Regions from separate parts of the Homo sapiens genome. Here region 2 is linked to region 1. Evidence: fine-mapped expression QTL. A gene starts in region 1. The other region holds a variant in brackets. All regions are shown on one strand. Distances are between the middles of the regions.

The links. PIP is the estimated chance that this variant, and not a neighbour inherited with it, causes the effect. A credible set is the group of variants that fine-mapping cannot tell apart.
Region 2: its variant is the best candidate, but not a certain one, in a credible set for the expression of APOC2 in lung (TOPMed, PIP 0.59).

What each region holds. Positions count from the first base shown.
Region 1 is chr19:44,943,746-44,949,112 of GRCh38, reverse strand. It overlaps APOC2 (apolipoprotein C2), which reads right to left and starts at 3,062. Exons shown (of 4, transcript NM_000483.5): 1 at 3,038-3,062; 2 at 580-647; 3 at 253-412. The coding sequence starts at 634. It overlaps APOC4 (apolipoprotein C4), which reads right to left. Exons shown (of 3, transcript NM_001646.3): 2 at 4,223-4,364; 3 at 3,617-3,973. The coding sequence ends at 3,808. It overlaps APOC4-APOC2 (APOC4-APOC2 readthrough (NMD candidate)), which reads right to left. Exons shown (of 6, transcript NR_037932.1): 2 at 4,223-4,364; 3 at 3,038-3,973; 4 at 580-647; 5 at 253-412.
Region 2 is chr19:45,006,668-45,012,034 of GRCh38, reverse strand. RELB (RELB proto-oncogene, NF-kB subunit) reads right to left here. Exons shown (of 12, transcript NM_006509.4): 3 at 2,213-2,221; 4 at 1-99. Among named protein-coding and RNA genes, the nearest start is that of RELB, 7.9 kb to the right of the region's middle. RefSeq lists an enhancer at 1-402 and a silencer at 4,765-4,914. The variant C/T (reference allele first, on the strand shown) is at 3,170.

The sequences.
Region 1 (5,367 bases):
TGGACTCCTGGGTCTGAGGGAGGAGGGTCTGGGGACCTGGACTCCTGGGTCTGAGGGAGGAGGGGCTGGGGGCCTGGACTCCTGGGTCTGAGGGAGGACGGGCTGGGGGCCTGGACTCCTGGGTCTGAGGGAGGAGGGGCTGAGGCCTGGACTCCTGGGTCTGAGGGAGGAGGGGCTGGGGCCTGAACTTCTGGGTCCTGGATGCAGTCGGTGGTATGGGCCAGACCCCATTTCTCCAGGGGCAGGTGCTACCTGAGTTTCTCATCTACAGCGGGCAGGTATGTCTTCTCGTACAGGTTCTGGGCGGCTGTCTTTGCTGACTCCCAGTAACTGGAGAGAGATTCCTTCACCTGGGTGAGGAAGGTCGGGCTAGGCATCTCATCTTGCTGGGGCTGTTGGGTCCCCTGGACCTCTGCAGGGGGAGAGTGTGTCAGGAGAGCCCGTGGGGCTGCAGCAGGGGGAAAGGAGGAAGGAAGAAGAGGAGAGGGCAGAGGCAGAGGTAAGAAGGGCCTGGGCTGGGAAGATGCTTGGAGCTCATTCCCCTCCCCAAGGCTTCCCTCCCCGGAAGCCCACACTCACCAAATCCCAATACCAGGAGGACAAGAAACAGAGCTGGGAGGAGTCGTGTGCCCATAGTGTCCAGAGACCTGGAACATTGAGGGGGTGTCATGTGGCAGGCTGACTGGAGGCGGCTGTTCCTGTGGTCACGCCCCACTCTGGTGGGGGGGACTGAGATCCTGCTCTGTGTGAGCTCGGTGTCCCAGTCAAGTTTCCCATGCATGGACTTGGACACAGCCCCCTTCTTGGGCCTCACTTTCCAACATTCTGTGATTCTACTCCTGATTTTAACATTTTAATTATTATTTTTTTCTTTTTTGAGATGGAATCTCACTCTGTTGCCCAGGCTGGAGTGCAGTGGTGCAATCTTGGCTCACTGCAACCCCCACCTCCCAGGTTCAAGCAATTCTCCTGCCTCAGCCTCCCCAGTAGCTGGGATTACAGGCACCCGCCACCACCCGGCTGATTTTTGTTTTCGTATTTTTTGAGATGGAGTCTCGCTCTGTCACCCAGGCTGGAGTGCAGTGGCGTGTTCTCGGCTCACTGCAACCTCTGCCTCCAGGGTTCTAGCAATTCTTCTGCCTCAGCCTCCCAAGGAGCTGGAATCACAAGCACCTGCCACCATGCCCGGCTAATATTTTGTATTTTTAGTAGAGATGGGGTTTCACCATGCTGGCCAGGCTGGTCTCGAACTTCTGACCTCGTGATCCGCCCACCTTGGCCTCCCAAAGTGCTAGGATTACAGGCTTGAGCCACTGTGCCCCACCTGATTTTTGTATTTTTAGTAGAGATGGGGTTTCACCATGTTGGCCAGGCTGGTCTTGAACTCCTAACCTCAAGTGATTTGCCTGCCTTGGCCTCCCAAAGTGCTGGAATTACAGGCATGAGCCACCATGCCCAGCTGCTAATTTTTATTCTTTTGTAGAGATGGGAGACTTGTTTTGTTGCCCAGGCTGGTCTGGAACTCCTGGGCTCAAGCGATCCTCCCATCTCGGCCTCCCCAGGGTGCTGGGAGTACAGGTGTGAGCCACTGAGCCCAGCCTAGAAGGCTTTCTTGAGCACCTAAACAGTTCTGGGCCCAGCAGGGAACACAGCAAAGCCTCTGCCCTTTGCTAAGGCTGAGTCAGTGCAGGGAGGTGCTCTGCAGACACCATTAAGGACCTACAGTAGATCAAATGTGTTACCTTAGGGCTCTGCCCTAAGTCAGACCTCATGTCCCTGCATCTCCTCACTGAGTTCTCACCTGCTCTATGAGAGAGGCACTTTTGGTGACGAAGAACATGCACAGGGCACAATATCATCATCCACACGTAGGAGATGAGGAAGTACGGCAGAAAGAGGGTGAGATCTGATCCCCGGAGAAAGAACACAAGCAAATGGTCTACAATTCTTTTTTTTTTTCCAAGACAAGGTCTTGTTCTCTCGCCCAGGCTGGAGTGCGATGGCGCAATTTTGGCTCACCGCAACCTCTGTCTTCCGGGTTCGAGCGATTCTCCTGCCTCAGCCTCCTGAGTAACTGGAAATACAAGCATGCACCACCATGCCTGTCTAATTTTTGTATTTTTAGTAGAGACGGGGTTTCACCATGTTGGCCAGGCTGGTCTCCAACTCCTGACATCAAGTGATCCGTTTGCCTTGGCCTCCCAAAGCGTTTGGATTACAAGTGTAAGCCACCACGCCCAGCCTACAGTTCTTTTTTAGTTTTTTAAATTTTTTCATTCTTTTTTTCCGCCAAGACTGAGTCTTGCTCTGTCACCCAGGCTAGAGTACAGTGGCACGATCTGGGCTCACTGCAACCTCCGCTTCCTGGGTTCAAGCAATTCTCCTGTCTCAGCCTCTGGAATAGCTGGGATTACAGGCATATGCTACCACACCCGGCCAATTTTTGTATTTTTAGTATAGATGCGGTTTCACCATGCTGGTAAGGCTGGTGTCGAACTCCTGACCTCAAGTGATCCACCCGCCTCGGCCTCCCAGAGTGCTGGGATTACAGGCATGAGCCATTGTACCTATCCCTTTTTCTTTCTCTTTTTTAGAAATGGGGTTTCTCTGTCACCCAGGCTGGAACACGGTGGCAAGATCACAGCTCACTGCATCCTCAAACTCCTGGGCTCAAGGGATCCTCCCCACCTCAGCCACCCTAACTCTAAGCAGAAGCTCAAATAGTCTACAGTTCTAAATTCTGTGATTTGTGGAGTGTGGTGGTGCACCTGTAGTCCCAGCTACTGGGGAGGCTGAGGCAGGAGGATTGCTTGAGCCCAGGAGTTTGAGTCTAGCCTGGGCTACATAGCGAGACTCCATCTCCCTCTCTCTCTCTCTCACACACACACACACACACACACACACACACACACACACACACAGTCATGGTTCCAACACGGGCTTCTAATATTGTGCCTCTTAAAATTCCTGCTTTATCGATCTTTGCCCTCTCCCTGCTGACGCCCCCCTGTCCCCGCACCCTGAGTCCCTTTCTTACCAGACTCTGGCAGGCTGTCCTCACCAGCTCCGGACGGGCACAGAGAGGATTTATAGTGGTTGAGACCCACTTCCGCTCCACAGCCACAACCCCCATCCTTTGTCTAGGCCAAAGTCCTGGCCAACAGAACTGCGGAGGGGGTGGGTGGGGACAGAAAGGGCAATGACGTCCCCCAAGGTCACGTCACAGGGAACCTTCTCTCAAGTGACAGGGAACCCTCACTCTGAGAATTCGCCTCCGACAGAGGCTGGGTTGGGGGCTGTGGAGGGGTTGGAGGTGCTGGGTGCCCACTGGGAATGGAGTCAGAGCTTGTAGGAGACAAGGGCGAAGCTCTCAGTGAGGGCCATCATGGGGACCTGCTGACTCCACCCACGCTCCTGCCCTCACCCTCCTGAAACTGACACGCCTTGAAGTCCCCCATTCTCCGCAAGCCCACAATAGGGTGTTATTCCTTGATACCCTTCCCGACCTCCCTACTCTTCCTTCCCCATCAGGTGTCACCTCTTCTACTCATTGATTCCTGGGAGGCAGTGGGGTGGGTTTTTTTCTGGCCACACTGGGGAAGGATCCAGACAGGGACACAGGTGAGACTTTATTTATTGGAGAAGTATGAACTTTTTTTTTTCTTTTTGTTTTACCCCCAAGAGATCTCGCTGTGTTGCCCAGGCTGGTCTCGAACTCCTGGGCTCAAGCCATCATCCTACCTCAGCCTCCTGAGTAGCTGGGACTACAGGCACCCGCCACAACCACACCTGGCTTTTATGAACATTTTAACCCTGGTCCTTGTCCCCACAGACAAGCCTGGGGCACAGGCTGTGGGTCTTCTTCAAGAGGCTGTCTTTGGATTCGAGGAACCAGGCCTTGGTGAGCGGACCCAGGTCCCTCAGGTGGTCGTCATAGTAGGTCTGCATGAAGCCCCGGAAGGTGCTCGGGCTCCTACAGGAGAGAGGACATCACAGTGGAGGCCCCAGCTCTCCCCAGGTGTTCTCTGCCCCATTTATCCGCTCCTCTCTGTGACCTAGGAGTTCCTGCTCTCAGCTCTAACCCTCCACTCCTCCCAGACCTAGGGGTCACAGCCCCACTCCCACCCTTTCCTCCTCCCTGAGACTCAGGGGTCCAGGCCCCAGCCCCTCCTCCCTCAGACCCAGGAGTCCCCTCCCACCACCCAGCCCAGCACACCCTCACCAGAACCATTGCCACCCGTCTCTGGTCCTGTTCACCACTGTCTCCAGCAGCTCCTTCATCCTGCCCCTCACCAGGCTCCAGCGACTCATCTTTAGCTTTGGTGGGGGGCTCAGGGTTCCTTCCTGGGCCTCTGGCTGGCATGCTAGGTGGAACCAGAGGGCAACTTGGGTAGGCTGGGACCCTAGAATCCCCTTCTCCCTTTCCCTCCATGCTCATCCTGTGTCGCTCCCGGTGGCCCAGGGGCAGCCCCCTGCCAGTCCTCTTGCCTCCTGCCTTTACCCTTATGTGTCCCCTGACCGCTAACCCCTCTTTAACCATCAGCCATCTCTTTTTTTTTTTCTTTTTTCTTTTTTTTTATGAGACAGAGTCAGTCTCTTGCTCTGTTGCCCAGGGTGGAGTGCAGTGTCATGATCTCGTCTCATTGCAACCTCCACCTCCTGGATTCAGGCAATTTTCCTGCCTCAGCCTCCCGAGTAGCAGGGATTACAGGCATCTGCCATCATGCCCGGCTAATTTTTGTATTTTTAGAAGAGATGGGGTTTTGCCATGTTGGGGCCTCGAACTCCTGACCTCAAGTGATCCACCCACCTCGGGCTCCCAAAATGCTGGGATTACAGATGTGAGCCACCCCGTCCGGCTGGGCCATCTCTTCACCTTGTGTCAGTAGTCCCTCCTGTCACCCTGTCTGCCTGTGGTTCCCCTCTAATGGCCTCTCTAATTGCCATCCTCTGATGCCTCCCTTCACCACCTGATTTTGCTGCCCAGGAACTACCCCCTTCTCCCTTCGTTCTCCTGTGACCCCCACCCTGTCTGAGCTACCTCTGTGGACAGTGGAGGGAGAGCAGGAGGTGACTTTCTGCCCCCAGGGGCAGACATTGGCTTAGCCTTGCTGTCAGTTCCTCTTTCCGGGCCAGACCTTCTACCCACGCATCTGGACAAAGCCTCGCCTACAGAGACCAGCCGTCACGCGGGGGCCACATGTAGCTAGCTGTGTGCCTTGGCCGGTGACTTATCCTGTCTCCCCAGGACTGTTTCTCCTTTTGTAGAACGGGGTAATAATATCTACCTCAGGGTTATCGTGAGAATTAAGAGTTACTACATACGATGCACATGGAATGGTGCCTTGCACATTGTCTACATACGTG
Region 2 (5,367 bases), 63 kb before region 1:
CAGCCCCGCGAGACACCAGGCGTGGCAGCCCCTCGCCCGGGCCCGGCTGTCCCCCGTCCAGGCCGAAGCCGTTCTCCTTGATGTACTCGTCGATGATCTCTGCGGGAGAAGAAAAAACGGGTGGTGACGCCCATTCTTTAAAAAATTAAAAAAAAAAAAAAAGGCTTGATTACCCCCGAGACGTTTTCCATCCCATTTATCTCTCTCTCTCTCTCTCTCTCTCTCTCTCTCTCTCTCACACACACACACACACACACACACACACACACACACACACAGAGTCAGGGAGGCCAGGTGCGGTGGCTCACGCCTGTAATCCCAACACCTTGGGAGGCCAAGGTGGGTGAATCAATTGAGGTCAGGAGTTCGAGACCAGCCTGGCCAACATAGTGAAACCCCGTCTCTACAAAAATTAGCCCGAATGGTCTCCCACGTCTGTAATCCCAGCTACTCAGGAGGCTGAGGCAGGAGAACAGCTTGAACCCAGGAGGCGGACACTGCAGTAAGTCAAGATCGTGACACTGCACGCCAGCCTGGGCGACAGAGTGAGACTCCGTCTCTCAATAAATAATAGGCTGGGCGCGGTGGCTCATGCCTGTAATCCCAGCATTTCGGGAGGCCGAGGCGGGCGGATCATGAGGTCAGGAGATCGAGACCATCCTGGCTAACACAGTGAAACCCTGTCTCTACTAAAAATACAAAAAATTAGCCAGGCATGGTGGCACGTGCCTGTAGTCCCAGCAACTCAGGAGGCTGAGGCAGGAGAATCGCTTGAAACCGTCAGGCGGAGGTTGCAGTGAGCCGAGATTGCGTCACTGCACTCCATCCTGCGCAACAGAGCAAGACTCCATCTCAAAAAATAATAATAATAAATAAATAAATAGGCTGGGCATGGTGGCTCACGCCTGTAATCCCAGCACTTTGGGAGGCCGAGGCAGGCGGATCACCTGAGGTCAGGAGTTTGAGACCTGCCTGGCGAACATGGTGAAACCCCATCTCCACTAAAAATATAAAAATTGGGCATGGTGATGTGTGCCTGCAGTTCCAGCTACTCGGGAGGCAGAGGCAGGAGAATCACTTAAACCTGGGAGGTGGAGGTTGCAGTGAGCCAAGATCATGCCATTGCACTCCAGCCTGGGCAACAAGAGCGAAATTCCATCTCTAAATAAATAGATAAATAAATACAAAAATGAGCCAGGTATGTTGGTGCATGCCTGTACTCCCAGCTACTCGGGAGGCTGAGGCAGGAGAATTGCTTGAACCTGGGAGGTGGAGGTTGCAGTGAGCTGAGACAGCACCACTGCACTCCAGCCTGGGCGACAGAGCGAGACTCTGTCTCAAAAAATAACTTAAATAAATAAATAAGAAAGAACTTGCTCCTCCAACTGCCTGTTCCACACGGTCCCCCATTCAACCCATGCTGGCTGCTTCTCCTCCTGGTCTCAGCTCGTATGTTATCTCTTCAGAAAAGCCTAACCTAATGTGTCTTCTCCAGGCCATCTCTCCCTCGTCCTGTTTATTTCTTTCACAGCTCTCAGCCCAGGCTAACATTATCTTGCTCATCTGTTCATTTTCCTCTGTCTCCCACACCGGGCTATCAGCTCTGCGAGGGCAGGGACTTGGTTTTGTTCATGGCTAAATCCCCAGGGCCTAAAACAGTGTCTGTCTGTACTCACTAGGGGATTAATAACATTATTTTATTTTAATTGGTTTTCTTTTTGAGACACGGTCTTGCTCTGCCGCCCAGGCTGCAGTGCAGTGGTGCAATCATAGCTCACTGCAGCCTCGGCTTCCAAGGCAACCTCCCAGGCTCAGGTGATCCTCCCACTTCAGCCTCCTGAGCAGCTGGGACTACAGGTGCGCACCACCATGCCCGGCTAATTTTTAAAAATTTTGTGTAGAGATGGGGGTCTCACTATGTTACCCAGGCTAGTCCTGAACTCCTGGCCTCAAGCAGTCCTCCTGCCTCTGCCTCCCAAAGTGCCAGGATTACAGGTGTGAGTCACACAGCCCCCGGCGTGCTGAGTGTTTTCCAAGTGTCAAGCACTGCTAAGTACCTTAGGAGCATGACTTCGTTCAAATCCCTCCACAGTCCTGGAAGTCACACAGTGACACCTCTCCCCCACCCCCACTGAACAAGGAAGGCCAAGACCCCCTTCTGTAGGCACTTGGGTCCCTCAGCCTCCCCGCAAACCTGCCCTGTGATACTCACCCAATTCATCTGTGGAAGGAAGAGAAAGAGAAAGAGAAAGGTAAGGTCCAGAAAGTGGTCACAACTTTTCATCTTTTAAGACAGATTCCCCAACCCTGTCCCTCCTGTGACCCTTCCGTCTTCCTCCGTCCTGGGAAACCCTGGGCTCTGACTTGCTGGGGCACTAAACCCCAAACCTCATCTTCTCCTCTGGGCTACCATCCTTTCAACCTCTAATGTTGGGGTCCCAGCATCAGGGTATCCTCCAACTAAGCCAAATGCCTCCCGAAAAACATTTAGACCAGGGATTATGAAGTCTTTTTGGGAACCCATTAGAAAGGGGTCTTAGCACCAGGAAAAAGTGGATGCCCAAATTTCCAAACAAATTGGGGTGTGTTCCCTCCCTGAAGTCCACCCCAGGGTCCTGGAGGTCACTGGCTGGTGTTTAAAGATACAAAGAGGTGGCCAGGCCTGGTGGCTCACGCCTGTAATCCCAGCACTTTGGGAGGCTGAGGTGGGCAGATCACTTGAGGTCAGGAGTTCGAGACCAGCCTGGCCAACATGGCGAAACCCCGTCTCTACTAAAAATACAAAAATTAGCTGGGTATCGTGGTGGGCACCTGTAATCCCAGCTACTCGGGAGGCTGAGGCAGGAGAATCGCTTGAACTCAGGAGGCAGAGGTTGCAGTGAGCTGAGATTGCGTCACTGCACTCCAGCCTGGACAACAGAGCGAGACTGTCTCAAAAACAAACAACAACAACAACAAAAAGATGCAAAGAGGCTGATCTGAACCCAGGCAGCCTCTTGCTCTGTACCCCAGCCCTGTCCTCCCACAGTGACCACCCAAAATCCCAGATTCACCCCTGCTTCCTAAGTGAGGAGGTACAGTAATGCTGGGTCCTCAGGGAAGCCCCTTTTCACCTCCCCAGGAAAGCTCAGCCCTTCACAGAATCGTGGAGGAATCGAAACCGACCTCC[C/T]GTCATTCCATAGACAGGACAAGGGGAAGCCCAGAGGCCGCCAGTGAGCCTTAGAATCACACAGCAACGGAAGGCAGCTGCAGCCAGGTGTCCCACCCAGGGCTGCCTGCGCTGGTCTCTGGCTGGGGATTTATAGACGCGAACCTGTTCCGCTGCTAGATCTGTCCTCCTCTGTTCTCAGGGAGTGGCTCCTGGCAGCCAGACCTTTGCCCCTTGAAAGGTAGTTTTCCTGCACCCCTTATCTCATGGGATCTGTGAAGCCAGTAGGGTGCCAAGGTCCCCCCAATTTGGCAGATGGGGATACTGAGGCTGGCAGAGAGGAAGGGACACGCTCTAGGTCAGTGGCAGGGCCAACCTCAAGTCACTTGAACTGGGAAAATCCTTCTTAGGCATCTGTGCTGGATGAACCTGGGGACCCAAAGACAGAGTTAGACTTTGGACCCTCCAGAGGCTCCCGGGCTGTAGGGGGAGACTGAGTCCTGGGCGGCTGTGGCTGGAGCTCTGGGTTCACTGCCTCTGTTCAAATCCTGGCTCTGCAACTTGCTAGTTGTGGGGCCATAAGCCTATTACTTCACCTTTTTGTGCCTTGGCTTCTTCATCTGTAAAATGGGCACAATAATAATGCCTACCTTGTTGGGCTAAGATACTTTTATTTAATATTTTATTTTATTTTATTTTATTTATTTTTATTTTTTTGAGACGGAGTCTTGCTCTGTCACCCAGGCTAGGGTGCAGTGGCACAATCTTGGCTCACTGCAACCTCTGCCTCCTGGGTTCAAGTGATTCTCCTGTCTCAGCCTCCCGAGTAGCTGAGATTACAGGTGCACACCACCACACCCGGCTTTTTTTTTTTTTTTTTTTTTTTGTATTTTTAGCAGAGACGGGGTTTTACTATGTTAGTCAGGCTAGTCTCGATCTCCTGACCTCATGATCCGCGCACCTCGGCCTCCTAAAGTGCTGGGATTACAGGCGTGAGCCACCACGCCCAGCCTATTTTCTATTTTTTGAGATGGAGTCTTGCTCTGTCACCCAGGCTGGAGTACAGTGTGGTGCATTCTTGGCTCACTGCAACCTCTGCCTCCCGGGTTCTAGCGATTCTCCTGCCTCAGCCTCCTGAGTAGCTGGGATTACAGTCTCGTACCACCATGCCCGGCTAATTTTTGTACTTTTAGTAGAGACGGGGTTTCACCATGTTGGCCAGGCTGGTCTCGAACTCCTGGCCTCAAGTGACCCACCCACCCCAGCCTCCCAAAGTGCTGGGATTACAGGTGTGAGCCACCACGCCTGGCCATGGGCATGATTTTAGAGCATGGAGTGTAGAGTCACATAGAGTTGATTTGAATCTCAGCTGTTACTCACTGGCTGTGCAGCCTTGGGCAAGTCACTTACCGTCTCTGAGCTTCCTCTACAAAATGAGGTGTGAGCTCCTACCTCAGGAACTAACATGAGGATTCAGAATCACACAGGTAAACTACTTAGTGCAGGTTCTGACCACGCGACATCTTCCAGAAAGCTTAGTTAATATTATTATTATCTCAAGTCCTCTATTAGCCAGGAAATTATTCAAGTTTCTGCTCAAATAGCAGTGCCTCCCTTTACCCCCAACGTGGACTTGCCACCATTCAGGGGCAGCCAGGATGGGCCACGTGAGAGCAGATGTGAGAGCAGGAAATTGACTATGTATGTGCTGCCTCAGCCTTTGCACAGGCTGGTCTCTGCCTGAATGCTCTTCCCCCAGTTCTTTGCATGGCGTGACTTCCTCCTCCTCCATCTTCAGTTCCTTGGTCAAACGTCACATCCTAGACAGCTCTTCCCTGACCATTTTATCCAAGAGAGTCCCCTTATCCCCCACTCCAGTCCCTCAAAGTCAGGTGCCTTTGTTTTATCATTTTCTTTTTTTTTTTTTTTTTCAGATGGAGTTTTGCTGTTGTCACCCAGGCTGGAGTGCAATGATGCAATCTCAGCTCACCACAACCTCCGCCTCGCAGGTTCAAGTGATTCTCCTGCCTCAGCCTCCTGAGTAGCTGGGATTACAGGCCACCACACCCAGCTAATTTTCGTATTTTTAGTAGAGATGAGGTTTTGCCACGTTGGTCAGGCTGGTCTTGAACTCCTGACCTCAGGTGATCCACCCACCTCGGCCTCCCAAAGTGCTGGGATTACAGGCATGAGCCACCACACCCAGCCTGTTTTATCAT